Linked DNA regions of Homo sapiens: all the other regions are linked to region 2. Evidence: fine-mapped expression QTL. A gene starts in region 2. Each other region holds a variant in brackets. All regions are shown on one strand. Distances are from middle to middle.

Region 1 (7,922 bases), 34 kb before region 2:
CTTCTCTCCTAAATCTCCTTATATAAAATTATCTAACCAGTTCTAGACACATCTATGCTTTCTTGATCACTAGAGCAGAAGGGATCCATTCCCTTCTTGAAAGTTTTTTGGCTGTATCTTTATTCATTTCATAACTCAGAAGAAAAGGACCGAGAGGCAGAAACTATAGTGACCCACCCAGCCTTCCAGCCCAGCCATGGAGGCCCCAGACCAGTCCATCTCTCAGGAAAGTCTGTGGAACCCAACCTACTTCCCTCCACAGGGAGGGATAAGGCCTGGGTAGTGTCTGTTCCATCTTGACACCATACACTTCACACTTCTTAACTCCCTGTCTACAGGAGTCATCTTATGAGGACTCAGCAGGAGCACATGGTCTTAAGCCTCAACAGACCAGACCACAGAATCTGATCCAGATTGGAGATCCAGTTTCCTTCTAACTTGGTTTGCTCTTGATCCAAGAAACAAGTAGTGCAAAGAATAGGTTGAAATATAGGCAGGGGACACGTTGTATTTCATTAAAGCTCATCATAAGTCAATGATCCTTGAAGCCCACACAGAGTGAGTCATTCATGTCAGTATCTTCAACATTACACCGTATACAGCAATAACTTTTCTAATTAGTGAACTAGGTCATCAAGGCCTAATGTCTGGGTAAGCAGCCTTGAAATTTTTACTATAATGATAATGATGCAATTTCCTCTTTTATCTGCACCTATGCTTCAAAACTCAGTGATCTCCACATTTTTCCATTTGATATTTACCGTGAACTGACCTGTCTATGCTCACCCAGCCTGCTGAGCTCAGCCCTGCAGGCCTAAGACGACTGTCACACCCTTAGTTCAGATTCCTCTAGTGTCTAAATGGCATTAATGGAGCAGCCCACTAGATTGACTTCTTGCTTCCAATTTTTTATTCCTCTATCTCATTTGCCAGTGATATTTCAGAAATGTAAAATTTATCAAGCCATTCTTCTGCTTAAAAATCATTACTGACTTCTGGCCGGGCGCAGTGGCTCACGCCTGTAATCCCAGCACTTTGGGAGGCCTAGGCAGGTGGATCACGAGGTCAGGAGATCGAGACCATCCTGGCTAACACTGTGAAATCCCATCTCTACTAAAAATACAAAAAATTAGCTTGGCGTGGTGGCAGGCAACTGCAGTCCCAGCTACTAGGGAGGCTGAGGCAGGAGAATGGCGTGAACCCAGGAGGCGGAGGTTCCAGTGAGCCGAGATCGCGCCACTGCACTCTAGCCTGGGAGACACAGCAAAAGTCTGTCAAAAAAAAAAATCATTACTGACTTCCCATTGCTATTAGGATATAGTTGAAAGATAATGTGGCATTCAGTGCCCGCCATGAACCAATGCATACCTACCCATCCACTTCATCCTCACTACTTCTCACTACTTCCTCACTCTTCTCTGCCCTACAAGTGCAGCTTCCAGATATTTCTGGATACTCAAGTCTCGCCCTCTGCACTTTGGCTCAGGTTTTTCATTTCCTCCAGTTCCTTTTCATCTGGATAACTTGCTCTCACTTTCCTGGTCTCAATCTAGACATTTTATGTTGTTTTCTTTTAACAGGAAGACTTTTGTGACACCCCTGATGGGCTTACTCTATCTGTAATATTTACAACATTACTTTATAATTGCTTCATTATCCATCATCCCTGCTATGCAACCCAGAATTGTATCATATTCACTACAGAGTCTCCAGAACCATTCATTGTCACTGACACGTACTAGACACTCCATTGATAATGCTTAAGTTAACACCAATAGAAATTTTAGTTTGCTGCCATTGACATTTTTGGGGATGCTTGCCTACCTTGCAAAATTTAAGATAGAATAGTAATTAAGGTAAAACTGATATTTCAAAAGGGCTTTGGATTATATGAACCTTCATAAATACCTGAGGATCTGTGACAACGTGGTCACCAATGGAAGAACAGAAAATTAACTTACTGAAAGAAGAGACACGACTTAGGTTACTTCAAGCAAGTGAGATGATCAGCTACTATCATAATTTTTCTCCTCTTTCCCCTTCTTTACCTTATATATTTGTTTCTTCTTCTTTTGTATTATTTATAAATTTTAGCAGCAGTGAGGCCCACTCTCGAGCTCAGATGACTAGGTTTAGAAAGTTGACTAGTGCCCTACTGTATGTGTGAGAAGAAATAAGAAAAGTCCTTAATATGGAAGCTTGAAGGTAACATTTGCACAGGTGAGGCATCTATCCTGACTCCTCAAAATTCATGTTAAAATTGTCTTCTCTTTCATTGGTATTGGCTGAAGAGTGTCATTTCTTAGATTAACTATGTCTTTGATGTTTTATAAATTATCTCATAATTTATTGCTTATTTTGTTTCTAAACATTAAAAAATGGAGTTTGTGAATTTTCCTGAGATTGGACAATTTTAATATGTTAAATGATACCTCTTATACAGTAAAATTTCTCTCAAACTGAGTGCTGTGAGTAATGCCTGAAACTTAAATTTTCCTTGGCTAATAATAGTCTTCATTACAAACAACCATTTTTTAACCCTATCAGGGCAAAATAAGAACTTTCATTGATATTTCTTCACTGAATTACTTCCAGCACTCAGAGAAAGACATTTTGTTCACATTTCGAAGGTCCTGCACAAAATCATTTTAATAAGCCTTGACAAACAACATCCTTCTCGGAATGTTGATTCATAATTATTGTATGTGGCTACATAAACAACCAATTATTTTCAGTGAGTCTTCAAATGTGAAAATGCATTTTGTTTTCAATGCAAACACTACAACCTTTACAAAATGTCAATAAATAAGAACCACTGGTCCAAGGTAAGATGTATGAATAGGTCTACGGTTATAAATAATGTGACAAACCAAAACAGTAAGTAGTACTTTTTTTCAGTTTTTATCAGAACATAAGAGTGGAGATTGAGAAATTGTGGAAGGTTCTGTTACAGCAGTAGCTAACTCCACTAATCATACTGCTGGGATATAAAATTATCCCCACATCCCACACCCCATCCAACTCAACCACTCAGCCTCCTACATAACATCCCCAGTACATGTTACATCATCTCCTTCCCGGTTGCCAGAGCAACATAGTTTATCCCTGCCATATCTGAGCTGGGTGGAGAAAAATGAGGCAAAGCTTCTTCTTAAAGTAATGTTCATGAGTCAAGTTCCCAGCTTGGATGTTAACCCAGAGAATTTCTCTAATAGTTTATGCCAGGCCCCCTTCACCTCTTTATTCCTTAGACTATAAATCACAGGGTTCAGCAGAGGCATAACAATGGCATAGAAGACAGAGATCAGCTTCTCTTGAAGGACTGAGGGACCAGAGTGGGGCTGGATGTAAGTGAAAATCGTTGTGCCGTAGCACAGGGCAACCACCGTGAGGTGAGAGGCACACGTGTGGAAGGCTTTCTTTCTTCCTTCTCTGGACTGGATCTTTAGGATGGTGGAGATGATCCGGATGTAGGACAACAGAACCAGGCAGAAAGGTGTCATCAGAAGAACAATGCTAGACACCATGATGGCAGCCTCATTGGAGGAGGTGTCCACACAAGCCAGCCTGACCACAGCTAGGAGTTCACAGGATATGTGATCAATAAACTTGTTAGTGCACATGGGCAGCTGAAAGGTGATAGCAGTCTGCACAAGAGAGTTGATGGAGCCACTGACCCAGGATGTGATGGCCAACCTAGCACACAGCCCTCCATGCATGATGGCCGAGTAT[C/T]GCAGGCGGTCAGACACAGCCACATGGCGGTCATAGGCCATCACTGCCAGGAGAACAAACTCAATCCCACCCAAGGCCAGGGAGAAAAATAACTGGGCTGCACAGCTCTGGAATGGGATGGCTTTATGTTCTGCAAGAAAATGTGCCAGCAGCTGGGGGACTACGCTTGTGGCATAGGAGACATCGACAAGGGAGAGGTTGGTGAGAAAGAAATACATGGGAGTGTGGAGTCGGCTGTCCAGTCTGATCAGAAGGACAATGAGACAGTTCCCCAGCACTGTCATGAGGTATGTGACCAAGAACAGGGAAAACAGGGATATCTGAGTGCACCAGTCACTGGATAAGCCAAGGAGAATAAATTCTCTCACCCACGTCTGGTTATCTATTTCCATTTAAAAATGTGAGGAATATTAATCTGTAGAAAGAGTCAGAAAAAAACAGAAGCTGTTGAATCAAAGAATCATAAGAATAACTTCTTAGGAATGCATACTGTATACGACATTCCAGCCTTGGCCAAATATTTTAGATAATTCACAAGGCCAAGATGACAGGCTTGTTTCCAACATACACTATATTTACTTTGCATTAGAGAGACAGTAGTGCTTTCATAAGGACATGATGTGGACTCAAATAAGCCAGTTAAAGCCTGTAGATAATGCAGTGCAATTTTTGGAAGCTTTACCTCTTTACTAGCTTACCTCAGTATCCAGGGCAGGGAGTTTGTTTTCTGATGATGTCAGCAAAAAGGAAGAATAGAAAGTCCCAGGCTCTACTCTTCTCCACAGAACATTCAACTAGCAACTATCCCCAGACCAGAATATCTCTTTTAAAACTCCACTACTTGGACACTAACATGAGACAACCACAAGGTACGTGGAATGAAAATTGAATTAGAAGGCTAAGAAGCATAGTTTCACTTCAACCCTGCCACCTTGCCTCCTGCCAAAGTCAACACAACACCAGACAAAGAGGGTTTTCCTGGGCCCATGGTTTTTACAGGAGGAAAGGAAAACTAGAGGCAGTCATTCAGCATCTCTAGTTTTCCAAGATGCTTCTCAGAAATCCCACTCTGGGCTTATCTCATGGAGAACACTGGGGGTAACAGCATAGCTAGACTACCTGGTGTCAAGTAAAAACAAAGAAAGGAGGCAGAGGTCTTAGTGACCAGCACACAGATCATGGCATTACCTCTGTGTTCTTGCTAGCTGTGGTGCCCAATCTGAGACACTAGTCAACTTCATAGTTCATTTACAAAGCTAAGCTGGTCATCTTCAGAAGCATGGTGGGAAGTACAACCTAGCTTGAGGCCTTAGATAGCTAGTCCCCATGTCCAGTCTCAGAGCCCACACCAGTGACCTCTGCCAAGACAAGGAGATACACACCTCCACCCATTTCAGAAACACACATGAGGTAGACCTGCTTAACCCAGGAAGTCAATCCATGGCTCTACTCAGCTAAAAGGCCCCATCAAGGACATCTACATGCCTTTCAGAGAAGCATGAGGGCTAGAACTGTTTGACCTGGGAAGTCAAACTCAATTCAGCCAAAAGCCCATCTTAAAGGGAAGAAACCCTACAAGGAAGCTCCACCTTAACAGGGAAGCAACCATCAATTGTGTTTTTCTGAGTGTAGCCTCTGGCCTCAATCATTCTAAGCAGCAACTTCTCCTAACTTTGGAGTTCAGCCTACAGCCCTGCCCAACTGCAAATCCCAGAAAGCATAATTTTCCAGCCAGGGAATAAATTCTGTGACTAGTCTGACCAGAAGCCATTGCAGTACGCAGTCAGTAGCTCTGTGTGATAACAGAGCTCAGCCAGTGGTCTTGCCAGACAGCAGGGCCCAGTCAATAGCCCCAGCCAATATCAGAGCAAAGACAGCATCCCAGGCAGGTAGAAAATCCACAGTTAGCTTTGCTTGCCCAGGGCCATTACCAGCTGGCCCTTGAAGAATTACAGGCTACACTAAATAGTATAGGTCTAGCCCTGCCAAAGAACACCTGTAAAGGCCAGAAGGAGGGGGTATCTCTTCAAATGAAAAGATAACAATGCAAAGACACAAGGATTACAAAGCACTGGGGAGTTATGACACCTCCAAAAGAAACTAATAAAGGGCTAATAATGGACCCTAAAGAAATGGAGATTTATGGGGTGACAAAAAATTCAGAATAATCCTCTTAAGTTAAAAAAAAGTACCAATAGAAATTTTAAAAAATTTGGAAAAAAATACACAAACAAGATGAGGAGTTTTACAAATAAATAGAAACAATAAAAAAGAACCAAATAGAAATCCTAGAGATGAAGAATAAAAAGACTGGATTGAAAAATTCAATTAAAAGTTTCAATGGCAGACTCAAGCAGAAGAAATATCAGTGAGCTGAAAGAACATTTGAAATTATCCAGTCAGAGGGGCAAACAGACAAAAGAATGAAAAAGAACGAAGAAAGCCTGTAGGAATTATGGGAGACCAATCCTTTATATAATAGGAGTTGCAGAAGGAGGAGAAGGAGAAAAAGGGGCAAAAACCATATTTAAAGAAATAATGGCTGAAAAATTCCCTAATCTGGAGACAGAAACCAACATCCAGGCACAAGAAGTTCAAAGATCTCCAATCAAATTCAACCCAAAAAGGAGTTCAGCAAAACACATAATAATCAAACTATTGAAACTCAAAGACAAAAAGAAAAGGATTCTAAGAGGATCAAGAGATAAGAAACACATCACATAAAAAGGAGTTTCAATACAACTCTTAGCCGATTTCTCAGCAGAAATCCTGCAGGCCAGGAAAGATTGGGATGATATAGTCAAAATGCTGAAAGTAAAAAACTTGCCAATCAAAAATACTTTACCCAGAAATACCTGCATTTCAGAAATAAAAAAGAAATAAAAACTTTCCCAGACAAACAAAGGCTAAGGGAGCTCATCACCACTAGGTCTGCCTTATAAGAATTATTAAAGAAAGTTATTCAATCTGAAGCAAAATATTACTAATTAATAACATATAACTTACAAAAATAGAAAATTCAGTAATATAAGTAAAACAGAGCCGTACTCAGAATACTCTAGGACTGTAATGATGGTGTATAAAGCAATTATATCCCTAGTACAAGTATTAAAAGACAAAATTACTAATAACAACTACAGCTAAAATAAGTTACTGAAAGATACACATTAAAAGCAATGGTAAATTCTGGGCCGGGCATAGTGGCTGACATCTGTAATCCTAACACTTTGGGAGGCTGAGGCATGTGGATCATTTGAGGGTCAGGAGTTTGAGACCAGCCTGGCCAACATGGGGAAACCCTGTCTCTACTAAAAATACAAAAATTAGCTGGGCATGGTGGCAGGCACCTGTAAACCCAGCTACTTGGAAGGCTGGCACAGGAGGAGAATTGCTTGAACCCAGGAGGCAGAGGTTGCAGTGAGCTGAGATCATACCATTGTACTCCAGCCTGGATGACAAGAGCGAAACATGGTATCAAAAAAAAAAAAGTAATGGTAAATTTCAATATCAAAAACATAAAATGTGGCTGGGGGACTAAAAGTGTAAAGTTGTTGGATGCAATCAAAGTTAAGTGGTTATCAGCTTGAAATAGGCTGTTTTAACTGTAAGATATTTTATGTAAGCATCTTGGTAACCACAAAGCAAAAATATTTAGTCAAAGCACAAAACAAAAATAGAATTGATTCAAAACATACCACTACAGAAAATCATCAAACCACAAAGGAAGACAGCAAGAGAGAGAGGAAGAAAAAAAAAAAAAGTAGAACCAGAAAAAAACAAAAACCAGAAAACAATTAACAAATGGTAGTAGTAAGTCATACCTATCAATAATTACTTCAAATGAAAATGGACTAAATTCTCTAATAAAAAAGACATAGAGTAGCTGAATGGATTAAAAAAAAAAAAGAAGACTCAACTATACGCTGCCTACAAGAGACTCTGCTCACTTTTAAGGATACACATGGACTGAAAGGGAAGAGATGAGAAAAGATAATCCACACAAATAGAAAACAAAATACAGCGAGGGTAGCTATACATATATGAGAAGAACAGATTTTAAGTCAAAACTATAAAAAAAAGAAGGCCAGGTGCGGTGGCTCACGCCTGTAATCCCAGCACTTTGGGAGGCTGAGGCGGGTGGATCACCTGAGATCAGGAGCTCAAGACGAGCCTGGGCAACATGGTGAAAC
Region 2 (7,922 bases):
TCCCCGAGATAATTTAATTCCTTACAGGTAGAGAGCATCGTGGGCAGGAACTCTTACCAACAGACCACTTGCCTTGTTGTCTAGTACTGCACTTACTAGCCACCAAAAAGACTGCTGCTCTTCAGAGCTATAAAACATGCGATGACGTGTAAGAAAGGTCATCTTAAACTCCTAGGGGCTGTCAGCACTCTGCTTGCAGTCTGGCAGGGCTCCCCTCTCTCCTCCTTTCCTCCCAGGATCACAGCCAGTCCACAAAGAGCAAGCCTGAGAAGGAGAGGAAAGGGGTGGGGGAGTGGTGGGTGAGGGGGTTGGAGGAGCTGAGGGGTGGCCAGTAGCGGGAGGAGGCAAGTGAAATGGAAACTCCTGGCCTTGGCTGGCCCAGAACTCGCACTGGCCCAGGTTCAGGAGTCTTGGTGTGCTTGCTGGTGAAGGGGTTTTCTCTGCTGCACTGGCTCCGTGTCCTTCCATACCCTAAAACATATACACACACAAACACACACACACACACACACACACACACACACACACACACACACACACAGAAACATGAGGCGCCGAGAGGACTAGCCAGTGATCTCAGCCTCAAGGACTTTGTACTGCAAGAGCGCTGGCATCTGAATTCCAAGGTCATGCTCCACCTCTACCTGCTGCAAACCCCTTCTGCTGCTTGCATTTCAGTGTTCCTTTTTGTATTAATATAAAGGAGGAGAGTGGATGAGATGTTGTAGCTCTGAAATTCTATGACCAATTGCACAGCAAAAACAACAGCAACTAAAAATGGTGGGTTTTGCTTGTGTGCCTGGAGAGGGAGTGGGGGTGGGCAAGCTTATGTCCTGTTGACTGTCAGCTTCTGAGGGGAGAAGGGATCTGGCAAGAGAGAAGTGCAGCTGTCTTGGCAGAGAGAATGAGAAATGAGAGAATGAGAAAGAGAGGTAACTGCAAGCAATCCTGGTCTTTCAGACACACTCAGTCTACAATCCCCAAACACCCACCTGCCCCCACAGTTTCCCCCCAGACACCCCATTTAACCGCACAAACACATCCAGACGCTGGTTTTTCCTTTCACCATAGTAGTCATAAACTATGCCTCTGTGCTAGTAGCTGGGTGCATTCACTTCTAGAAATCTCTTAGAAGTAAAGTCCCATCCATGTCTGCCCTCCAATCTCAGGCTAGGCCTATGTAGTTTTGAGGGGAGACTAGATTTGCAGGGAAATGAGGAGAGAACACACAACTTGGAGATTTGAAGAGCAAAGGAGACAAGGGCCAAGGAAATCATGGAAGAAGTCTGGAAGGATCTGTCCATTCTCTGGTAATGGTGAACATTCACATAGGGTTTTCCATGTGCCAGACACTGCTTTAAGAGCTTTATCTGTATTAAGTCATTTAATCTTCATAAAAATTCCATGAAGTAGAGACAATTATTATCCCCAATGTTACAGATGAAAACACTAAGATAGAAGTTAACAAGCCCTCTGTGATAGGCAGAAAAATAGCTCCCTAAAGATGTTGATATGGTTTGGCTATGTGCCCCCACCCAAATCTCATCTTGCAGCTCCCATAATTCCCACGTGTTATGGGAGGGATCTGGTGGGAGATGATTGAATCATGGGGGTGGGTCTTTCCCCAACCGTTCTCATGATAGTGGAGAGGTCGCAGGAGATCCGATGGTTTTAAAAACGGCAGTTTCCCTGAACAAGCTGTCTCTTTGCCTGCCGCCATCCACATAAGATGTGACTTGCTTCTCCTTGCCTTCTGCCATGATTGTGAGGCCTCCCCAACCACGTGAAACTGTGAGTCCAATTAAACCTCTTTCTTTTGTAAATTGCCCAGTCTGGGGAATGTCTTTATCTGCAGTGTGAAAATGGATTAATACAGATGTCCAGATCCTAATTCCCAGAATTTGTGATACGCAATGCTACATGGCAAGGGAGAATTAAGGTTGCAGACAGAATGAAGGCTGCTAATTAGCTGACCTTGAGATGGGAAATTATCTAGATTATCTGGATAGGCACAATGTAATCACAAGGTCCTTCTAAGTGAAAGAAGGAAGCAGGAGACTCAAAGAAGGAGATGTGACACAGAAGCAGAGGCTGGAGCCATGAGATTGCTGACTTTGAAGATGAAGGAAAGGGCTGCAAGCCAGGGAATGCGGGAGCCTCTGGAAGCTGGAAAAAGCAAGGAAAATAGATTTGTCCCTAGATCCTGCAAAGAGAAACACATCCCTGCCTACACCTGGATGATAGCCCAGTGAGACCTGTGCTGGACTTCCAGGACCTACAGTCCTGGAAGATAGTAGTAAATCTGTGTTGTTTTAAGCCACTAAATGTGTGAAAATTTATCACAGCAGCCTTAGCAATGAATACACTGCCCAACTTGTAAGCAGAGGATGTGGTGGCTTCAAAGTCCAGGCTTTTTCCCTGCTACTCCTTTCTTTCTTTCCTCCCTCATGCCCAATATCTGTCATCTGTTGATTGGTTAGTAACATTCTCAACGCCTTACTGTTTTATTAAACTTATAAAAACAATGTATTGGTTTAAAAAAAAACAATTCAGTGGTTGTGAAGGTAAGAATCAATAGACAATTTCTCCACCGTTAGCCCCGCCTCTTATAGAAGCACATGCAGCATGTCTTCTTCATACACGAATGTAATGCTAAAGCTGATGCAGTGGCTCAGGCCTGTGATCCCAGCACTTTGGGAGGCCGAGGCGGGAGGATCACTTGAGCCCTGGCGTTCGAGACCAGCCTGGGCAACAAAGTAAAACCCTGTCTCTAACAAAAAATCAAAAAGTTAGCTGGGCGTGGTGGCGGCGCACTTGTGGTCCCAGCCTCTGAGGTGGAAGGATCGCTTGAGCCTGGGAGGTTGAAGCTGCAGTGAGCTGTGATGGCACCACTGCACTCCAGCCTGGGTGGCAGAAGCAGACCCTCCCCCTGGAGGGGAGGGGAGGGGAGGGGAGGGGAGGGGAGGGGAGGGGAGGGGGAAAGAGAGATCCTACTCTCCATTTTAATACAACTTGCTTTTTTAATTAAAAACTATAGCTAGAACCGATAGATTTCACTCGTCCTTAAAAATAGTCCTGTATTATTTTATATAAACATCTCTCGCTATTTATCAAGGCCGTCACTTGTTCAGAAGTATTCTCACTTTTGTTTTGTTTTGTTTTGTTCTTAACAATTTGCTCCCTATATTCCTGGGCTGGCGCCTAGGCCTGCATCCGGGATTTGGCGCCACATCTGCGGGCAGGGCCTCTGAGGTCTAGGGGAGGGACGGCGCCGGCCAAGTCCCGCCCCCGTCCGCGTCGACCAATCAGCTCCCTGGAAGGCCCCTCCTCACCACCCCCCACCCCCGCAGTCTCCGCCTAAGACTTTCCAAGTCCTGTAGTTTCGAGCCCGCTGCCCTTTGCCTCCTGGGCGGAGAAGCTGCTTCCTCCTGGGAACAACCGCCTCCCGCTCCTAGCAGGTTGCTACTGCCCCGAACCCGCGCTGCAGGGAACAGCGGGGCAAACAGTGAGTGGGGTTCAGCGTAGACTCTGGACCAGGAGAGGCCCGCGGTGACCGAGGCCTGGGCCCCGGGTTAGTGTCCGGGGCGGGGAGCGGTGGGCGGGGTGCGACGTTTAGCGTCTGGGGAGGGCCGGGCGTGGATTGCGGCCTCTGCGCGCGCCCCCAGGTGATAGAGCCGTTCCACCGAGGATCCCTTCCTTCGTCTCTACCCCGTTGATGATTTTTCTCTGCAGCTCGGTGCCTATTTCATTCTCGCCGCATTGTTATGCCCTCTGCTGGGCAGGAGGCGATGACCCCCCCTATTTTCGTAGGATTTGTTTTTTGCTCCGCAAGGAGCCATTAAGATCTGAGCTAGCAGGAACCCTCGAGGCGATTTGATCTCGCCAGCTGGGGGCTTGCATTCTTCTAGGCTAGCTTGTCTCCGTTAAGCCCAGGTGGAAGTTCTCATCCACCCCAGTGCTCTAGGCGCCCACGGGCGCAGTGTGGGTTTGTGGTGGGGGAAGGGACCTGGGGAGGGGTGGCGGTGAGAGCGGCGCGGGGATTCAGGCTGAATGTTAGTCTGGAATGCATTTGGCCTGAAGCAGCAAGTGCTGGGTGATACAGTTCCCTGGTAAACAGCCGAGAGCTGGCCGCTAGTTTGGCCCAACCTGCAACGGAAGAAGGCCTTAAGTACAGGAGAAAAAGATCTTTGCCAATTGGATAATCATGGAAATTTAGAAGAAGTACAGCTCGAACTAGACGTAAAGGACAGAATGTGTCTGTCTAGCTGACCAGCCAACCATCGGTCCATCACTTTCATCCTCCAAACTAGTGATTTGTTGATGAATTGGTTTCAATACTTTGTTTTAAAATGTTGAATAAAAAGTAAATGAAATATCTCAGAATGGTCTAAAAAATAATGAAACGAATGCCTGACCATCTCCTTGGGTCAAGAAATAGGGCGTCACAGTACCTTAGAAGCCCATGAGTCCCAACTGATGCCCATGGTCCATTCTCCTCCATTCTCTGAGATGTGACATCTTTCGTGATTTTTGTCTTAATTTAATGAATCCCTTGCTTTTCTTTTTAGTTTTACCATATTTGTGTGTGTATTCCTAAAACATATGTATTGGCTTTCTCATTATAATGACATTATATTAATGACATTATCCTGTACGTATTCTTAAGTTTTATAGATTCATCTTTCATGCTTCCTTCCATTTTCGTTTTCGTCATTTAAGGTGTAAATGTACATAATTTATCCATTCTACTGCTGATGGACATTGGATTGTTTCTACTTTTGGAGGTGTATGATTTATCTATAAGCTATGTAACAAATTACCCCAACACCTAGCAGCTTCAAACCAAAGCGAACAAACAAAACAAGTCCTGTTACCTCCTATCTTACAGTTTCTGTGATCAGGAATCCAGGAGGGGCTTAGCTGGGAGTCTCTGACTCAGGGTCTCTCACAAGCTGTATCAACAATCAAGGTATTGACTGGGCCTCAGTCATCTCAAGGCTAGGCGTAGGGTCGAGGACCTCTCCCAGGCTTACTCACATGACTGCTGGCAGGCCGATTGGCCTCACTGACCCTGGCTGTACACATCAGTTCTTTGCCACATGGGCCTCTGTATAAAGAATGGTTGCAACATGGCAGCTTACTCCCCCCAGAGAGAAGGCTCCCACAGAGAAAAAGAGAAAGACAGAAGTCAGATTCTTTCTGTAACCTCAGAAGCGACATCCCATTATTTTTGCCATTTTATATTCATTAGAAGTGAGTCCCTAGGCCCAACTCACACTGAAGGGAAGGGGGTGACACAAGGACATGAACACCTGGAGGCAGGGATTATCGGGGCCACTTTAAAGCCTGCCCATGTCCTCTAATATTCAAGTACACTTGTGTGGGAGCTTCCCTAGAGTATATAGCTGGGAGTAGAATTGCGGAGTTATAAGATTTATGTGTATTCAATTTTATTGGGTCATTTCTAAACTTTCCAAAGTGTTAAACCAGTTTGCACTCCCTCCAGCAGTGGATGAGCATTCTTGTTGCTCTACATGCTTGCCACAGCTTAGTCTTGTAAAATTACATTTTTTGTCAGTCTGGCAGGTATGAAATAGCATTTAACTGTGATTTTAACTAGCATTTTCCATAACTAATGAGATTGACTTTTTATATGTTGATCAGTGCTTTCTCTTTGTGAAATTCTGATTCCTGTCTCTTTCATTTTTGTATTGGATTGTTTGTTTACCTTTTTTATTGACTCATTGGAATGCTTTCTTTATATAATCTGGGTACGAAGCAGTAATTGTTAGCTATATATGCCACAGACATCTTTCCAATTTGCTTTTGAGGTTTTCTTTCTCTCTATGTCTTTATATCTGTTTCTTTCTCTGTTTCTATCAATGAATCTAAGTTTTGAATTTAATTTCAAGTTAGTAGTACTTTCTTTTATAGCTTTTCTTGTTTGATAATTGTTTTCTCAAGATCATAGATTAATTTTAGTGTATCGTTTTCTAAAAGTGTTATAGTTTTGCCTTTGGCAATTAGTCTTAATCCACATGGAAACTGATTTTTATGTTGTTTATTCCATATGGATAATCTGTTGCCCCAGCACCAGTGATTTGCATGAATCAGGATTTCCATATAAGCATGAATTCGTTTTAAGCCCCCATTCTTATTTTCTATTTGTCTAACTCTGCCTCAATACTAAATAATTTTTAACCACTATAGTTTTATTAAAAGCCTTGAAATTTGGTAGGAAAAGTCCTATCACCTGTTTCTTCTTCTTTAAGAGTGTTTTAGCTTTACTTGGACCTTTGACCTTCCATATAAATATTTAAATAAACTTATCAAGTTCTCCAAAACAAGAAACAAACAAGCAAATAAACCTGTTGGAATTCTGATTGATAATGGATCAACTCTGTGTCTTAGTCTGTTTTGTGCTACCATAGCAGAATACCTGAGACTGAGTAATGTATAAGGAACAAAAATTTATCAGCTCACAGTTCTGGAGGCTGGGAAGTCCAAGATTGAGTGGCTGGCATCTGGCAAGAAAGAGCCTTCTTACTGTGTCATTCCATGGCATAAAGGCAGAGAAAGGCTGAAAGAGAGTGTAAAAGGAGGGTGAATGCCGCCTTTTATAATGAACTCACTCCTACAGTGATGGCATTAATTCATTCACTCTGCTGTCATGACCTGATGGCCTCTCATTAAGCCCACCTCTTAACACCATTGCATTGGGGATTAAGTTTCCAACACCTGCTTTTTGAGGGACACATTCAAACCATTGCACTCTATAAATTATTTTGGGCAGAAATTATTTCTAAGACATTGGCCCTTTTCCTCAATGAACATGGTATATGACACTATTTAAGTCATCTTCAATGTTTTGTACTATTTTTTATTGTTTTCTTTTGGCTCAGTTTTTGTTAAATTTCTAGGCACGTCATATTTTTACTGCTATTGTAAGCATTTTCTTTTGTAAAAGTTATATTTTGTAGTTTATTGTTGCTGGCATACAGAAATTCAGTTGCCTTTTATATATTAATTATATATCAATCAAACTTGAGAAAATTAATAATTCTAAATTTACCTGTAGCTTCTTTCAGATTTGCTACATAGGCAATCATATCATCCGAAAATAATGATAATTTTGTTTATTCGTTTCTAATTCTCATACCTTCAATTTATTTTTTCTGTCTTATGACAATGACTAGGAGCTCCAGTACACTGTTGAATAAAAGTAATAAAGGGCATCTTGTTTTGTCCTTAAGATAATAATGAGAAATATTTCATTATGTCAACTTAAAAATGACATTTGCTATAGTTACTTTGTAAATGTCTTCCCCATCATAAGAAAATTCTGTTCTTCTTTTGGTAAGCACTTTTATTATAAATGGATGTTTTTTCAAATGCTTTTCCTGTAGCTGTTGAGAATATATATACTTTTTTTCCTTTAACTATATTAACAACATAGTAAAGTATAGTATTTAATTTCTGATATTAAACCAATTTTGTATTCTTGGAATAAACCTTTTGTGGTAAATATGTAGTAATTTCTGTATGTGGATATAGATACAAAAGGTAAACATTGGATATTTATATTTATACGTGTGATTTAAGATTGGCATGTAATTATACTTTTCTGTACTATCCTTTTCTGATGCTGGTATTATCATAAAATAATATGAATAGTATTCTCCCTTATGCTATTCTTTGGAAGAATTTGTGCAAGATTGGGATTATCTGGTCCTTGAATATTTCCTTGAATCACCTGTAAAATCATCTGTGTTTGGAGTGTATTTTTTCAGAAGATTTTAATGATTATAGTACTATTTAGGTTTTCCTATGGAGTCAGTTGTAGTAAATTGTATTTTCCAAGATATTTAACAATTTCACATATACATGAATGTATCAGTATACGTACATGTATATGTTTATTC
Region 3 (7,922 bases), 160 kb after region 2:
AAGAACCTTGAAAAAAGGCTAGATGAATTGCTAACTAGAATAATCAGTTTGAGAAGAACATAAATGACCTGATGGAGCTGAAAAACACAGCACGAGAACTTCGTGAAGCATACACAAGTATCAGTAGCTGAATCGATCAAGTGGAAGAAAGGATATCAGAGATTGAAGATCAACTCAATGAGATAAAGGCAGAAGACAAGATTAGAGAAAAATGAATGAAAAGGAATGGACAAAGCATCCAAGAAATATGGGACTATGTGAAAAGACCAAATCTATGTTTGATTGGTTTACCTGAGAGTGACACAAAGAATGGAACCAAGTTGGAAAACACTCTTCAGGATATTATCCAGGAGAACTTCTCTAACGTAGCAAGACAGGCCAACATTCAAATTCAGGAAATACAGAGAACACCACAAAGATACTCTTTGAGAAGAGCAACCCCAAGACACAGAATTGTCAGATTCACCAAGGTTGAAATGAAGGAAAAAATGTTAAGGGCAGACAGAGAGAAATGTCAGGTTACCTACAAAGGGAAACCCATCAGACTAACAGTGGATCTCTTGGCAGAAACTCTACAAGCCAGAAGAGAGTGAGGGCCAATATTCAACATTCTTAAAGAAAAGAATTTTCAGCCCAGAATTTCATATGCAGCCAAACTAAGCTTCATACATCAAGGAGAAGTAAAATCCTTTACAGAGAAGCAAATGCTGAGAGATTTTGTCAGCACCAGGCCTGCCTTATAAGAGCTTCAGAAGGAAGCACTAAACATAGAAAGGAACAACCAGTACCAGCCACTGCAAAAACATACCAAATTGTAAAGACCACCAACACTATGAAGAAACTGCATCAACTAGCAGGCAAAATAACCAGCTAACATCATAATGACTTGATCAAATTCATACATAACAATATTAACCTTAAATGTAAATGAGCTAAATACCTCAATTAAAAGACACAGACTGACAAATTGGATAGAGTCAAGACCCAGTGGTATGCTGTATTCAGGAGACCCATCTCACTTGCAAAGACACACATAGGCTCAAAATAAAGGGATGGAGGAAGCTACCCAGAAAAAAGGAAAGCAAAAAAGAAGCAGGGATTGCAATCCTAGTCTCTGATAAAACAGACTGTAAACCAACAAAGGTCAAAAGAACCAAAGATGGGCATTACATAATGGTAAAAAGATCAATGCAACAAGAAGAGCTAACTATCCTAAATATACATACACCAATACAGGAGCACCCAGATTCATAAAGCAAGTTCTCAGACACCTACAAAGAGACTTAGACACCCACACAATAATAGTGGGAGACTTTAACACCCTACTGTGGATATTAAACAGATCAACAAGACAGAAAATTAACAAGGATATTCAGGACTTGAACTCAGCTCTGGACCAAATAGACATCTACAGAACTGTCTACCCCAAATCAACAGAATATATATTCTTCTCAGCACCACATTGCACTTATTCTAAAATTGACCACATAATTGGAAGTAAAACACTCCTCAGCAAATGCAAAAGAATAGAAATCATAACAAACAGTCTCTCAGACCACAGGACAATCAAATTAGAACTCAGGATTAAGAAACTCACTCAAAACCACACTACTACATGGAAACTGAACAATCTCCTCCTAAATGACTACTGGGTAAATAGGTTCATTTGGTCTATAGTGCAGATTAAGTCTGATTTTTTTTTGTTGATTTCTGTCTGGAAGATCTGTCCAATGCTAAAAGTAGGGTGTTGAAGTCTCCGGCTATTACTACACTGGGGCATATCTCTCTCTTTAGCTCTAATAATATTTGCTTTATATATCTGGGTGCTCCAGTGTTGGGTGCATACATATTTAAAATTGTTACATCCTCTTGCTGAATCGAGCCCTCCGTTATTATATAGTGTCCTTCTTTGTCCCTTCTTATAGTTTTTGTCTTAAAATCTATTTTGTCTGATATAAGTATAGTGAATTCTTCTCTTTTTTTGGCTTCCATTGGCATAGAATATCTTTTTCCATCCCCTTATTTTCAGTCTATGTGTGTCTTTATAGGTGAAGTGTGTTTCTTGTAGGCAACAGATGAGTGGGTCTTGTTTTTTCAAGATAACCTGACTTCAAGTTTATTAGCTCTTTATTCTGCTTGCTCAATTCTGCTATTAAAAGACCCTGATGCATTCTTCAGTATGTCAATTGCATTTCTCAGCTCCAGAATTTCTGCTTGATTCTTTTTAGTTATTTCAATCTCTTTGTTAAATTTATCTGATAGAATTCTGAATTCTTTCTCTGTGTTATCTTGAATTTCTTTGAGTTTTCTCAACACAGCTATCTTGATTTCTGTGTTTGAAAGTTTACGTATCTCTGTTTCTCCAGAATTGGCCCTGGGTGCCTTATTTAGTTTGTTTGGTGAGGTCATGTTTTCCTGGATGGTGTTGATGCTAGTGGATGTTCTTCATTGTCTGGGCATTGAAGAGTTAGGCATTTATTGTCGTCTTCAATGTCTGGGTTTGCTTGTAGCTGTCCTTTTTGGGAAGGCTTTCCAGATGCCTGAAAGGACTTGAGTCTTGTGATCCAAACTGTATCTACTTTAGAGGGGCATCTCAAACCCAGTAACATCATGGTTCTTGCAGACTTGTACAAGTACCACCTTGATGGTCTTGGACAAGATCCAGGAGAATTCTCTAGATTACCAGGCAGAAATTCTTATTCTCTTTTCTTACTTTCTCCCAAATGTACAGAATTTCTCTCTCTCTGTTCTGTGCCACCTAAAGCTGGGGGCGGAGTGGCACAAGCACCCCTTTGGCCACCACCACTATGACTGTTCTGGGTTAGACCTGAAGCCAGCCCAGTGCTTACTGGGTCTCACCCAAGGTCTGCTGTAACCACTCCCTGGCTACTGCCTACATTACCTCAAGGCCTTGGGACTCTACAATCAGTAAATGCCAAAGCCAATCAGGCCTATGCCCTTCCCTTCAGGGCAGCAAGCTCCCCTAAGCCCCAGAAGTGGGTCCAGAATGCCATCTGGGAGTCAGGGACTAGAGTAAAAACCCTTAGATGTCTACCTGGTGCTCTCTTGTATTGCAGCTGAACTGGCACTCTAACCACTAGATGCAGTCCTTCCCACTCTTGCCTCCCCTTTCCAAAGGCAGAGGAGCCTCACCCCATAGCCACCACCACCCAGGCCACAAGGAGTACTGCCAGACTACCACCAAAGTTCCCTTAAAGCCCAAGATCTCTTAAGTCAGCTTGTCATAAATGCTACCTGTCCTGGGACTCCCATGTTAGGGCAGTGGGTGCTCCTCTGGCCCAGGGCAGGTCCAGAAATGCTGTCCAAGAGTCAAGTCCTAGAATTGGGGACCCCGAGAGCCTGACTGGTTCTTTATCCTTCTGTGGCCATGCTGGTACCTAAGGTGCAAAACAAAGTTCCCTTTACTTTTTCCTCTGCTTTTCTCAAGCAGAAGTTTTGCCCCAGAGCCACCGCAGCTAGTAATATCCTGAGTCTCACCTGAAGCCAGCAAGCCTCAAAGGCTCACCCAAGGCCCTTGGTGTAGTACTTGGGTATTGCTGCTGGTTATTCAGGGCCCAAGGGCTCTTCAGTTAGCAGGCGATAAATGCTGCCAGGACTGGGTCCTTTCTTTCAAGGCAGCAGGTTCCCTTCTGGCCCAGGGTGTGTGTAGAAATGTCATCTGGAAGCTAGGGCCTGCAGTGGGGACCTCGTGACTCTGACTGTTGCCCTGTTTTGTTGTAGCTGAGCTGGTATCCTAGGTGCATCACAAAGTCTTTCCCACTCTCCCTTTTCCTACCTTCAACTGGAAGAAAGAGAGGTCTTTCCGAGCCATAAGTTGTGCAGCCTGGGTTTATGGGAGGGTTGAAGCCAGCACTCCCTTAGCTGCCCCAGCTAGTGTTTCTGTACGCCACATGCAGTCCCAGTTCACTGTCTCTGGGCCTAGTTCAGCACCAGGACTCACCTAAGAGTTTCAGTCTTTATGGCCCAGACTGCCTTTCAAGTTTACTTGGAGATACAGAGTGTTATAGCCCTCGGTGGTGAAGTTTGCAGGCACTCAAGTTCTAACTGTTGGAATCAGTGATTCTCCTCTGGCTAGGCCTGGTTTAAATGCTCCCTCTGTGGGTGGGTGTCAGCTGAGTTTGGTCTGGTTTTCCTTTCTGCTCTAACAAGACAGCACTGAGTTCAATGCCTCACAATTGCTGTATTCTTCCTTCCCCAGCACCTAGAGACGCTCTCTGCACCACGCCATGATTGCTGAAGGGTGCAGGAGGGGTGGCATACTTGATTTAGGACTGTTTTTTTTCTATCTCTTCAGTGCTTGTTTCAGCCATATGAAGTTAAAACCAGGTACTATGAGGGCTCACCGGATTTTTGGTTCGTATGAAGGTATTTTTTCTGTGTAGATAGTTGTTAACCTGGTGTCCTTGTGGTGGCAGGGCAGACTATCAATGGAGCCTTCTATTCCGCTATCTTGCTTTGCCTCCTCCCCTCTGGAAAACTAATTTTTAAAAAATCAATTCTCGGCCGGGCACAGTGGCTCA[T/C]GCCTGTAATCCCAACACTTTGGGAGGCCGAGGTGGGTGGATCACAAGGTCAGGAGTTGAAGACCAGCCTGGCCAATATGGTGAAACCTTGTCTATACTAAAAATACAAAAATTAGCTGGGCATGGTGGTGGGTACCTGTAGTCCCAGCTACTCGGGAGGCTGAGGCAGGAGAATCACTTGAACCCAGGAGGTGGAGGTTGCAGTGAGCCAAGATCGTGCCACTGCACTCCAGCCTGGGCGACAGAGCGAGACTCCACCTCAAAAAAAAAAAAAAATTCAAGTCTCCACTAATTGATGCATATTCTTAAAAAATTACTTAGAATCAAAATCTCAACAGGGTTTTTCATTATTGTAGTTGTTTACTCACTTGTTTTAGTGGAATGCAACAAGCTGGTTTAAAAATTTAAATGGAAGCACAAACAACCAAGAATAATTGTGTGTTCTTGACAAAAACTAAGGTAGAATAATTAGCAAGATTTATTATGAAGATATTACAATAGTATAGCATTGGCATAGAGATGAAGAAAAAAAATAGAAAAGAATAGAGAGCCTGCAAAGAGATCCACACAGATCCAGACTTTTGGCCCCGTAGATGAGGCAGAAAGAGTGAACCTTTCAATGAACAGTGCTATAATTAGGAATCCATATTTTAAAAAACTACAGTTGTATTCCTAGTTCACTATGCCCAAAACTCATTTAAACTTAAAAATTTATACAACTCTTTGAAGATAATATAGAAAAATCTCTTTGTGGAATTTGGGTAAACAATTTTTTTTACTCATGGTACAAATAGTATTAATCATAAAAAAGATTAATAACTTTGACTACTTTAAAATTAAGAAGTTGTGTTTATTAAAATACACCACAAGAAGAGTGAAAATTGGCCCAGAGTGGGAAAAGCTGTTGGCCACACATGTAACTGACCAAGTTTATATATCTAAAACATTGTGACATACAGAAAATCCGATAGAAAAATACACAAGAAAATGGAATGAGCACTTCAAAATAAAAGCAAAAATCAAATGTTTAGTTAATATATGCAAAGCTGCTTAACATCATTAGTAATGAGGAAAATGCAAATTAAAACCACAATAATATATTACTATGCACTCATCACTTTGGAAAAAAAAGTATTTCATAATATCAAGTGTTCCTAAGGATCTAGAGCAATGGAAACTCATATACTCTAAGTGATATGATTTATCTTTGACTTGTCTTTATCTACAGCTTGGTTTTATCTAAGAAGGTTGAAGCTATGCATATTCTACGATACAGCAATTCCTTTCCTAGGGTATGCCAGAGAAACTCTCGCACAGATATACATGTAAAGGATGTTTGTAGTATCAGATAGGCCCCAAATAAAAACAATCAAAAACCAATCAGCAGCAAAATAGATTAACTGATTGTATTATAGTTATATAACTGAGTATTAGGCAGAAAGAAAAATGAAGTAGAGCTACACAAATCAACACAGACGATGTCACAGTATTGCACTAAAGAAGCAAGTCATAAAAGATTACATATAATATAACTTTCTTGTATTCTTATACAGTTTAAAACAAGTTAAAACTAAACTATGTAGTTTAAGTTTGTGCACATAGGTAGTAAAACTAAAGGAGCAAAAGGAATGATCACAGAAGTCAGATTAGTGTTCCATCTGGTGGTAGGAGAGGGACAATGAACTTGGAGGAACATATGGAGGACTTCAATTATTGGCAACATTCTATTTCTTAATCTGTTGCTGATCTGATTGTTCCCTTTCTAATTATTATTTAAATTGTACATATGCTTTTAGATACATTTTTTATGAGCACAGTGTATTTCATTAAAAAAAGAATATTGTTGGGTTGCATCTTCTGACACTAAAAGTAAATTGGTTTGGGAAATTTTTATGGATAACACAAGTAGAGAGCATATTGACCAGTCAATTGCTTCATGGGAAGGGTAACATAAATATCTCTTTTAAATTAAAACCACGGCAAGAGACTGTGTTTGCCACAATGGGAACAATTTCACTGTTTCAACTGGTGATCAGGAGCTGAAAGGTTTTCTAAATGGCCACAAGGGAGAGACAAAGAACAAAGATTCTATGCAGAGGACACAGAACTTAAAATGTCGAGGGTTCATTCAAGATAGGAGTGACTTTAATTCCCTTTAGCAGTGCGTGTTATTCCATTTTAACAATATTTGTGAGCAGTAGGAGCTTTGACGGTCCCATTTAGTGTGACCAACCACTAAGGCTTTAATTTTTTCTGAAACTGTTTCGAAATACTAAGTTTTCAAATAAGTCAGGGACTTTAAGGCATTCAGGGGAGGAAATACAAGCAGGGTCATTTTAAATAAAGGTAGGGTCATCTTTAAGGCTGGTCGCTGTTGCTCATGCCGGCAATCCCAGCACTCTGGGAGGCCGAGGCTAGGTGGATCATGTGAGGCAGGAGTTCGAGACCAACATGGCCAAACCCTGTATCTACTAAAAATACAAAAATTAGCTGGGCATGGTGGCAAACACTTGTTGACCCAGCTATTTGGGAGGCTCAGGCAGGAGAATCACTTGAATGCAGAAGGCAGAGATTGCAGTGAGTTGAGATTTCATGACTGCACTCCAGCCTGGGCAACAGAGCGAGACTCCATCTCAAAAACAAACAAAACCACCACCACCAACAACAACAATAAAAACCCACTTCTTTAAAACTTAAAAGTGACCATTATTATTTCCCTAAAGTATTCTAGGGTGATTTCTGCCTCTTGAAATGTCTCCAGTTTGTTGGGAATTTAGATTTTACAGCTATTGGAGCTAATAACCTATGGGAACGTATGTGGTCCCTTATCCAATGCTTTTAGACATAATGAGAGGAGTTGGGGCATCCTTAAAAAGGATAAAAACCTTGAGTGTAAGACCTGCTTCCTCTAAGACTCCATCAAGCTCTTATTTTGAATCGCAGAATCTTTAAAACCCTCCAGTCTAGGTTGGACACGGTCTTGGTATTGGAAAAAAAATCAATTGTATATCCTGAGCGAAGTGTTCCTTGGATGAATGACCTTTACTGTAAAGTAACTGCTTTTTGTGTAACTAGGAATAACCTGATTGGTTTTGGCAGTTGGACTCTGCTTGCTCTGTGATTCAGTATTCAGACACATAGTCTAATGCAGGCAGAGTTACAGGCGATGGCAGATCCAGTAACTCCATAGGACAGTATGCTGGCTGAGAGTGTGGGCTCCAACTTCTAGGGTTGGAAATGTGGCTTCACAGCTTACTAGTTCTCAGCAAAATGAAGAGTGTAATTGTACTTACTCTGTAGGAATGTTGTGAGCATAAATAAATATAAAAGCACTTAAAACAGTTTCTGAAAAGAAGCGGTTTATTGATGATTCACCTAACT
Region 4 (7,922 bases), 170 kb after region 2:
CAAAATACAGAAACTCCTGAAAATAGCTTATACTATTCACTGACCAAGTCCCAAGGAAAAGGAGAAATAAGAATTAATGGAAAATTCACTCTCACAGTGCAGCCTGTTTTCAGAAGCTAAAAATAGGAGAATGGTTCTAATCACACTAAAGCTTCTTTCTGGAATAGTGAAACCATTTTCTTGAATAGGGATAAATAACAGAGGTCTTTTCTTCTTCTTCTTCTTTCTTTTTCTTTTCTTTTTTTTTTTTTTGAGACAGAGTCTCACTCTTTTGCCCAGGTTGGAGTGCAGTGGCACGATCTCAGCTCAGGGCAACCTCCGCCTCCCGGATTCAAGTGATTCTCCTGCCTCAGATTCCCAAGTAGCTGGAATTACAGGCATGTGCCACCACACCCAGTTAATTTTTGTATTTTCAGTAGAGACAGGGTTTTGTCATGTTGGCCAGGCTGGTGTGGAACGCCAGACCTCAGGTGATCCGCCTAAAGACAGCAAACATATACAATAGTTGGAAATCCTCATCTAGTCTTCTCCCATTATCATACACTCTTGTTAGTAATGTGTTAATACAATAGACCCCTACACCAAAACTGATATGTGACAGGCCCTGCCCTTGGGGCTGTAGATACAGCTGTGAATAGGGTAGGTCTAGTCCCTGCCCCTATGAAGCTTCCATGTAGTGGGAAAGAGAGATTTTAAACAAATAATTACAAATGTGATGACTGATATATAAAGGAAGTTACAGGTTTTATCGGAACATGAGGCTTAGAGACACGGCTCGAGGAAATGACCTCTGGGTTAAGAGCTGAAGAAAAAAAGAAAACCTTAAAAATACTGATACCCCAATCCAAAGTAATATAGAGAAGTGCCGTCCCTTCTCCAAGGCCACCACTAGCTCATAAAATGCCTCTGTGTGAATTAGAGAATGTCGCTCTTGCTATCCTGGCTGGCTCAGTGGTGGCACCCCAGTGGCCCACCTTTGTGTGTGACCCAAATGGCACGTCCACAAAGTGTGTCCCTTCTCCACAGGGCAGGTTTTGTTTTATTAAAAATACAACACTAAACACTATTTTACCAAATTTAGCAAATGGAGAAAATATACATTGAAATTATTCACATTTGAAAAAGATTGCAGACCATTCAAGTTTAATTAAGTCCTGGTTAAAGATACTTAAAGATTTAACAGGAAAAAACAAAAAGTGAAAATGTTTTAATTTCTTATGATAAATATAAATGATAAATGAGTCCTCACTCTGAAAATATAACTCTAAAAAAGGACATTTTTCTAGTTGACTTTTGTTGTTGTTCTACCCAAAAGGAAGCCCAAACATCAGAAACTTCTCTATTCTATTGTGAAGTGGAGGGAAGGACAGGTGGAAGAAAGGAATGACCCAGGAGCACAGAACAATCTGTAGAAATGAGAAGGAGGGCCGCATTCACGCTGAAATGTGTGCATCACAGCTGGAATAAAGAAAGCAAGGGATAGAGGTGGGAGGCAAATCTGGAAACACTCGCAGAGACCAAATCATGGAAGACTATGTTGGCATGCAAGCTGTGTTGTAAATTTTAATACAGTTTATATCTATCTTGTTTAAAAGGTGTCATGCTTGCATAGGGTAGAAAACATATGTGGTAGAAATACAATATTAAATTACTAACAAAGAGCTTATAAGAAAAACAACAGGAATCTGCCCAAACCCTACTCTGTCTTTATCTCCCCTGTTTCTCTACTCTTTCAATCCTACTCTCCCTAAGAAATTGTTTCAAAACTTAAAAAAAACAAGTCTTCTACTTCTCTTTTTTTCTTTTCTTTTTTCTTTTTTTTGGACGGAGTCTCACTCTATTGTCCAGGCTACAGTGCAGTGGCGCGATCTCAGCTCACTGCAACCTCCAGCGATTCTCCTGCCTCAGCCTCCTGAGTAGCTGGGACTACAGGCATGAGCCACTGCACCCAGCTAATTCTGCATTTTTTTTAGTAGAGATGTGGTTTCACCATATTGGCCAGGCTGGTCTCGAACTCCTGACCTCGTGATCCACCCGCCTCGGCCTGCCAAAGTGTTGGGATTACAGGCGTGAACCACTGCACCTGGCAAAAGTCTTTTACTTCTATAGGTATAAATAGTAGACTTACACCATTACAATTTTACTACAAAATTTCTAAACATAGGCAAAAGTTGAATAAGGATCCTTCAAGAGCCCCTTCACTTAGCTTCAATAACAAACAACATTTGGCACTGTCATTACCAATTCTCCAGTACCAAAGAAAATGTATGCTTCCCAGTACAGCCAGTAAAAGTCTGTCGTATGCACTTCATCACCCTGGCAAGGGCCACCTTCCCATCACTTGAACCAATCCTTGTTGGAAGGTATGGACAATTAGATGAGCATGGATTCTGTGCCCACTCCTGCCAACAGTGTGGGCCAACCCCTTCCAAACCAAGTGGACTCTGTGTTGATGTTGGTGTACCAAAGGAAACCAAAGGAAAACTGATGGGGCTTTTAGCAAAGCAATTGAGTGGCTCATGGGAGGGAAAAGCAAACCAAACCCATGTCCTGTACAGTAGTGATTGGACAAAAATATACAGTCCAAGGGAAATTATAAGCACTAGTTCCAAAGTGAGACAAGCTACATTCAGTATCTATCCTACTGTTCACAGGACATGTTTTTTTCTTTGGGTTGGTTCCAAGACCATCCAATAATTTTCTTCTAATAATTTTTCTAGACTTAGAACTGTGAAATTATGGAAGTAAATGTCTCAGAAATCATGGATCATCCCTATCACTGGCAGCAAATTAGTTTCTGTGAATAGACAAAAGAATCTGAGAATACTGCAGTTACAATTAACTATCAACTTAAAAACAAGAGGCAAAGTCACAGTCTCTCTGTATGAGAGACAAGGAGCTACAGGCTCCAACTTCTACCAGGAAGTGTGTGTGTGTGTAAGAAGCCAGACATTGTCTCTGTTTCTAGGGCAATCTATTAAACCCAGCAGTATCCATCATTTTACCCTAACATCACTGTTGAGAACACCAGTTCTGCAACCTACAGAATGGGAGAAAATTTTTGCAAGCTACCCATCTGACAAGTTCTGATATCCAGAATCTGCAAGGGACTTAAACAAATTTACAACAACAACAAAAACACATCAAAAAGTGGGCAAAGGATATGAACAGACACTTCTCAAAAGAAGACATTTATGTGGCCAATAAACATGAAAAAAAGCTCATCATTACTGGTCATTAGGGAAATGTAAATCAAAACCACAATGGGGTACCATCTCATGCCAGTTAGAATGGCGATCATTAAAAAGTCAGGAAACAACAGATGTTGGTGAGGCTGTGGAGAAACAGGAATGCTTTTACACTGTTGTTGGGAGTGTAAATTAGTTCAACCATTGTGGAAGACAATGTGATGATTCCTCAAAGATCTAGAACCAGAAATACCATTTGACCCAGCAATCCCATTACTGGATATACACCCAAAGGACTATAAACCATTCTACTATAAAGACACATGCACACATACTTTTATTGCAGCATTATTTACAATAGCAAAGACTTGGAACCAACCCAAATGCCCACCAATGATAGACTGGATAAAGAAAATATGGCATATATACCATTGAATACCATGCAGCCATGAAAAAGAATGAGTTCATGTCCTTTGCAGGGACATGGATGAAGCTGGAAGCCATAATTCTCAGCAAACTAACACAGGAACAGAAAACCAAACAACACATGTTCTCACTCATAAGTGGGAGATGAAAAATGAGAACAAATGGACACAGGGAGGGAAACATCACACTGGGGCCTGTCGGGAGGTTGGGGGCAATGGGAGGGAGAGCATTAGGACAAATATCTAATGCATGCAGAGCTTAAAATCTAGATGATGGATTGATAGGTGCAGCAAACCACCATGGCACATGTATACCTATGTAACAAACCTGCACGTTCTGCACATGTATCCCAGAACTTAAATGAAAAAAAAAAAAGAACATCAGTTCTGGAGTTGAATTTCCTGAGTTCAAATTCCTTCTCTACCCAAGGCTGGATGACCCAAAGGCAGACAAATCACATTCTGAGGCAGGCAGAAAATCAGATACCAACACCTTTTTGGAAGTTAAACTTGTTATTGAATGAAAATTCAGTAGTAAACATTGGAAAAATCCAGACCTGGTTGAACATATTTTCATCTATTTTCTAGGTGACATTTTGTTTAAATTGTAAACCATTCATGAAGAATAAGTTCCACAATGTTTTCATTGCTATGGGCTTCAATTAAACCCTGGTTCTTCCTTTTATTCACTTTGTGACTTCAAAAAACTTATTTTATGTCCCTTAGTGTCAGTTTCCTCATGTACGAAATGGGGATCATACTAGTACCTACCTCAGAGGTCTGCTGGGAAGATAACATTAAATCACTCACAGTAAATAGCTCACGCAATGCCTGGAACATACTAATCACTCATTATGTGTTAGGTGTCATTACTGTTCTTTCCTTTGACAAATACTTCATGAACACCTTTGATGTGTAGAGCCCCTGGCAAAGGGTACTAGAGAAATAAAAGGAAATTATCTAGAATTGGGAATTTGTTAAATATGCTGACGGGATTCAGCAAAAGACATGCCCTAAATTAGTTCTCCTAATGGGAAGCCACTCTACTCTCAACATAGCCTAAGGAATGATATTCAAAACAAACAACAATATGGTCTAAAAGTAAACTGGAGAAAGTAGCTAGGCATACACTCATTAATCCCAGAGACAAATCTCCA[A/G]TGAGAACTCCCTCTAACCGAAGAGTCAAGATGGGCTAGAATGAGATTAAGAGAAAGCTCAGGGGATGCTGGGGTGTGGGTTGATTAAGTGAGGATTACATCCGCTGCACCCAGTAATCCTGTTCCAGAGTGAAGCCCACTGTGCCTGTGGACCCCCCACCACTTGACAGTGCCTTGATTCCATGGTGACCAGAGGAGTCAGATGCCTGTTTTGTGGTATGAACGAATGGGCATATAGACTTAGTAGCAGCTGTTAACATGACTTTGTCCTTTGGTTGAAGGGCAAAGGGCAAACCCTGGAAAATGAAGCTAATCCCAAAGACCCAACCTCACAGCTCTGTGACACTCAGTTTCAGCACATGCCACTTTTCTTTGGGTTAGGTTATACCCAAGAATCCTTCCAGAAGTGGGAGAAAAAATGTAGAAAGGGCTAAGATACTGCTGACAACTACCATTATTGATACCATGTCTGGGAAAACATTGACATTCTCTAAATATACAAGGACTGAATGCTAACCCCAAGGGGGTCAACACTGAAGTGAGATTCAGCACCCAGGATGTGCACGCTAGACTGGACACCGTTAACAGTCCACTATGGGACCAGGAGAAATCAAACAACAGCTTTGTGAGGAAAAGATTTGTATCCTCATGTCATGGATGTGAAGACAGAAACACAGAGAGGTGGAGTGATTTTCCATAGAACCAAAGCTGGTTTGGGGCTCTCTCCACTATTCCAGCGTGTCTCGCTTGCTATTTGAAAACTTGTTAAAGCATAATAAATTAGAAGCCTTATTCAGGGATGGCAGGGATGAGAAAGGGATATCAGGTTGTTATGGGAACCCGTGGTCTTTAGAGCTATTGGTCAAAAATAGAAGCCTCAGGATGGCAGGATGAAAGATCCTCTCTGGAAGACTAAGAGGTGAAGTGAGTCTCTTGGGGAAAGCAATAGCGTAGGCAGAAAAACAATAAAAAGAAGCACAAGGCACCTTTTACAGAAAGGGGTTCCATTTTTTCTTATGACCGTGGCCACCATCTAGTGGTCAGGCTTGGAAGCGGGATTCAGGCTCCAGATACTGAGCACACGGCCAAAGCCCCATGGTGGAGTTGATGGCGTGACCCTGCCTTTTCTCTCCCGCCTTGTGGGGCATCCTTTACTTCCTGGCACGGAGGTACACTTGCATGGGGTTTTCCTGCCACTCTGGTAGGGAGGCCAGGCTGTCAGCCACCTCCTTCTGGATAGGCCAGCCCCAGGCCTCAAAGAAGGGAACCAGATTCTTCTTCACTTTTTCAGAGAACTTCTTCACCCATAGATTCATCCTGCCAGTGTTGTCTTTGGGGAGGTGAGAGAGGGTCTGGTACTCAGCAAAGAGCTGGGTGAATGGCTCCCACCCGAAGGCCTCTTGGAGCTGAAAAGGGAAAGAAGGAACAGAATGAGGTGTCAAGTTTGCAAAAGTGACGTGACATGTGCGTTCTTAAATATATTTCATTCACATGATCACCTCCCCTCAATCGTTACCTTCATCCTGGGTATGTGCCCCTATCTCCCCACTCTGCCCCTGCACAATAATGCAATCTTGTTGGCTCATTCCTCCTCTTGGCCACAAAACAACACCCCCTGAATCTAGTGGGGGTGCTCAGGGGAAACCTAATGTCTGAATAGAGGTAAATACTCAATAAATGTCCACTATTAGTATCTTTAAACAATTGTCTTCCCAGATCTCAAGTGTTTTCCTCAGCATCAGGACAGGTTTGGGCCTGACTGAGATGAGAAACCCTCACTTCCTACATATCTGGCCTATTGAGATTCTAAAAGCTGCGAACCTCCAATACTATACTTTCCAGACATCATAATAATCCTTATTTTTTAATAGCCATCTTGGACCTGTGGCTATCTGCAATGATACAAAATTGCTCTGTAGAACACTGCATTTAGGGCAGAAAAAGAAAAAAATCCAGCCTGTCTCGAGGGGCTAAAAATGAGAGTGGCTCATACTTCATAAGGGGCAGCTAATGAGAGTGGCTCATACTTCATAAGGGGCAGCTCTCCGGAAAGCCCTTGGCAGAAGGCCCTTGTTTACTAAGATTATACAAATTTCCAGTTAGCGGGGATCTGGGGTTTCACATCCCCACTCTCCCTTTAATAGATGAGCATTCTCTGACTGTAGCTCATAAAAGCCCAAAGACAGATAACACCACCGAAGCCAAGCCTACCTCAGAGTCTCACTGTTGTATCCTTATTATTGCTCATCTGTTCTCACTGGCTTGCTCTTTGACACTTATTAATCAATGCATCAATAAATTAAGCATTTATTAAACGTTTAACATGTATTAGACACCCACACACCGCCAGCTACTGTGCTAGGCAAACATCATTAAGAGCTCTTGTCCTTCTAGAGAACACTGGCCAAAGGGAGAAACACACGTAAATAAACACATTGCTAAAACTGTTGGTTTATCAAGGAGGCGATGTCCAGGAGAGAAAGGGCCAACAGAGCTGAATTTGGACAGGTGACTTGACAGCTAATGGACAAGATGTTCCAGCATGATTCAGCAGCAGGAAGCAAACAAGGGGAGGCACAGAAGCCAAAACAGCAAGCTGTGTCCGTAACCATAAGCAGGTTGGCATGCCGAAGGGTAAATGTGGAGGTGAGAGCAGTAGGAGATGTAGCTAGAGGTGCTGGTGAGGCTGGTCATGAAGGGCCTCCTATGCCCTGCTAATGAGCTTTGACTTTACCCTATATGTGCTAGAGAACACTGTAAGCATTTGATAGACAGAGTATTAACATTATTTTGGAAGGAGTGTAAGGAAGATGGATCATAGAGGATTGAGGCAAGATGCTGGGACAACTTAGAAGGCTACTGGAATACACTGAGGGAAGACTAACGAGGCCTGAGCTAAGGCAGCAGTGGCACGGATGCTGGGGAGAAGCCCTCTAGCAGGAAGAGGAGTCAGAAGGTGCCTGTTTATCCTGAGGCCAAGTCTCAGACTTGGTCTCTCTAGAGCTATTGAGAACTGATATTCGGGGCTCCACAGTGAGTAGGTAGCAGACTAGGACAGAATTAGGGCTTAAACTTACAGTTTAGGGGCAACCTACCATTGTGGTCAGTGGTCCCGTATACCCCCAGACTGGCTATCTAAGGATATGGAAATG

Evidence for each region. PIP is the estimated chance that this variant, and not a neighbour inherited with it, causes the effect. A credible set is the group of variants that fine-mapping cannot tell apart.
Region 1: its variant is the best candidate, but not a certain one, in a credible set for the expression of TCAF1 in whole blood (INTERVAL, PIP 0.88).
Region 3: its variant is the best candidate, but not a certain one, in a credible set for the expression of TCAF1 in esophagus mucosa (GTEx, PIP 0.58).
Region 4: its variant is the best candidate, but not a certain one, in a credible set for the expression of TCAF1 in whole blood (TOPMed, PIP 0.53).

The regions. Positions count from the first base shown.
Region 1 is chr7:143,931,435-143,939,356 of GRCh38, reverse strand. It overlaps OR2F2 (olfactory receptor family 2 subfamily F member 2), which reads right to left and starts at 4,124. Exons shown (of 1, transcript NM_001004685.1): 1 at 3,171-4,124. The coding sequence starts at 4,124. The coding sequence ends at 3,171. RefSeq lists an enhancer at 3,276-3,775. The variant C/T (reference allele first, on the strand shown) is at 3,733.
Region 2 is chr7:143,897,610-143,905,531 of GRCh38, reverse strand. It overlaps TCAF1 (TRPM8 channel associated factor 1), which reads left to right and starts at 3,356. Exons shown (of 9, transcript NM_014719.3): 1 at 3,356-3,571. It overlaps LOC105375549 (a long non-coding RNA gene), which reads right to left. Exons shown (of 3, transcript XR_007060574.1): 3 at 3,579-7,922. RefSeq lists a silencer at 3,196-3,335 and enhancers at 4,126-4,175, 3,851-4,388.
Region 3 is chr7:143,735,908-143,743,829 of GRCh38, reverse strand. No RefSeq gene overlaps it. Among named protein-coding and RNA genes, the nearest start is that of CTAGE6, 18 kb to the left of the region's middle. The variant T/C (reference allele first, on the strand shown) is at 4,542.
Region 4 is chr7:143,725,667-143,733,588 of GRCh38, reverse strand. It overlaps TCAF2 (TRPM8 channel associated factor 2), which reads right to left. Exons shown (of 8, transcript NM_001363538.2): 8 at 3,179-6,176. The coding sequence ends at 5,922. Among named protein-coding and RNA genes, the nearest start is that of CTAGE6, 28 kb to the left of the region's middle. The variant A/G (reference allele first, on the strand shown) is at 4,771.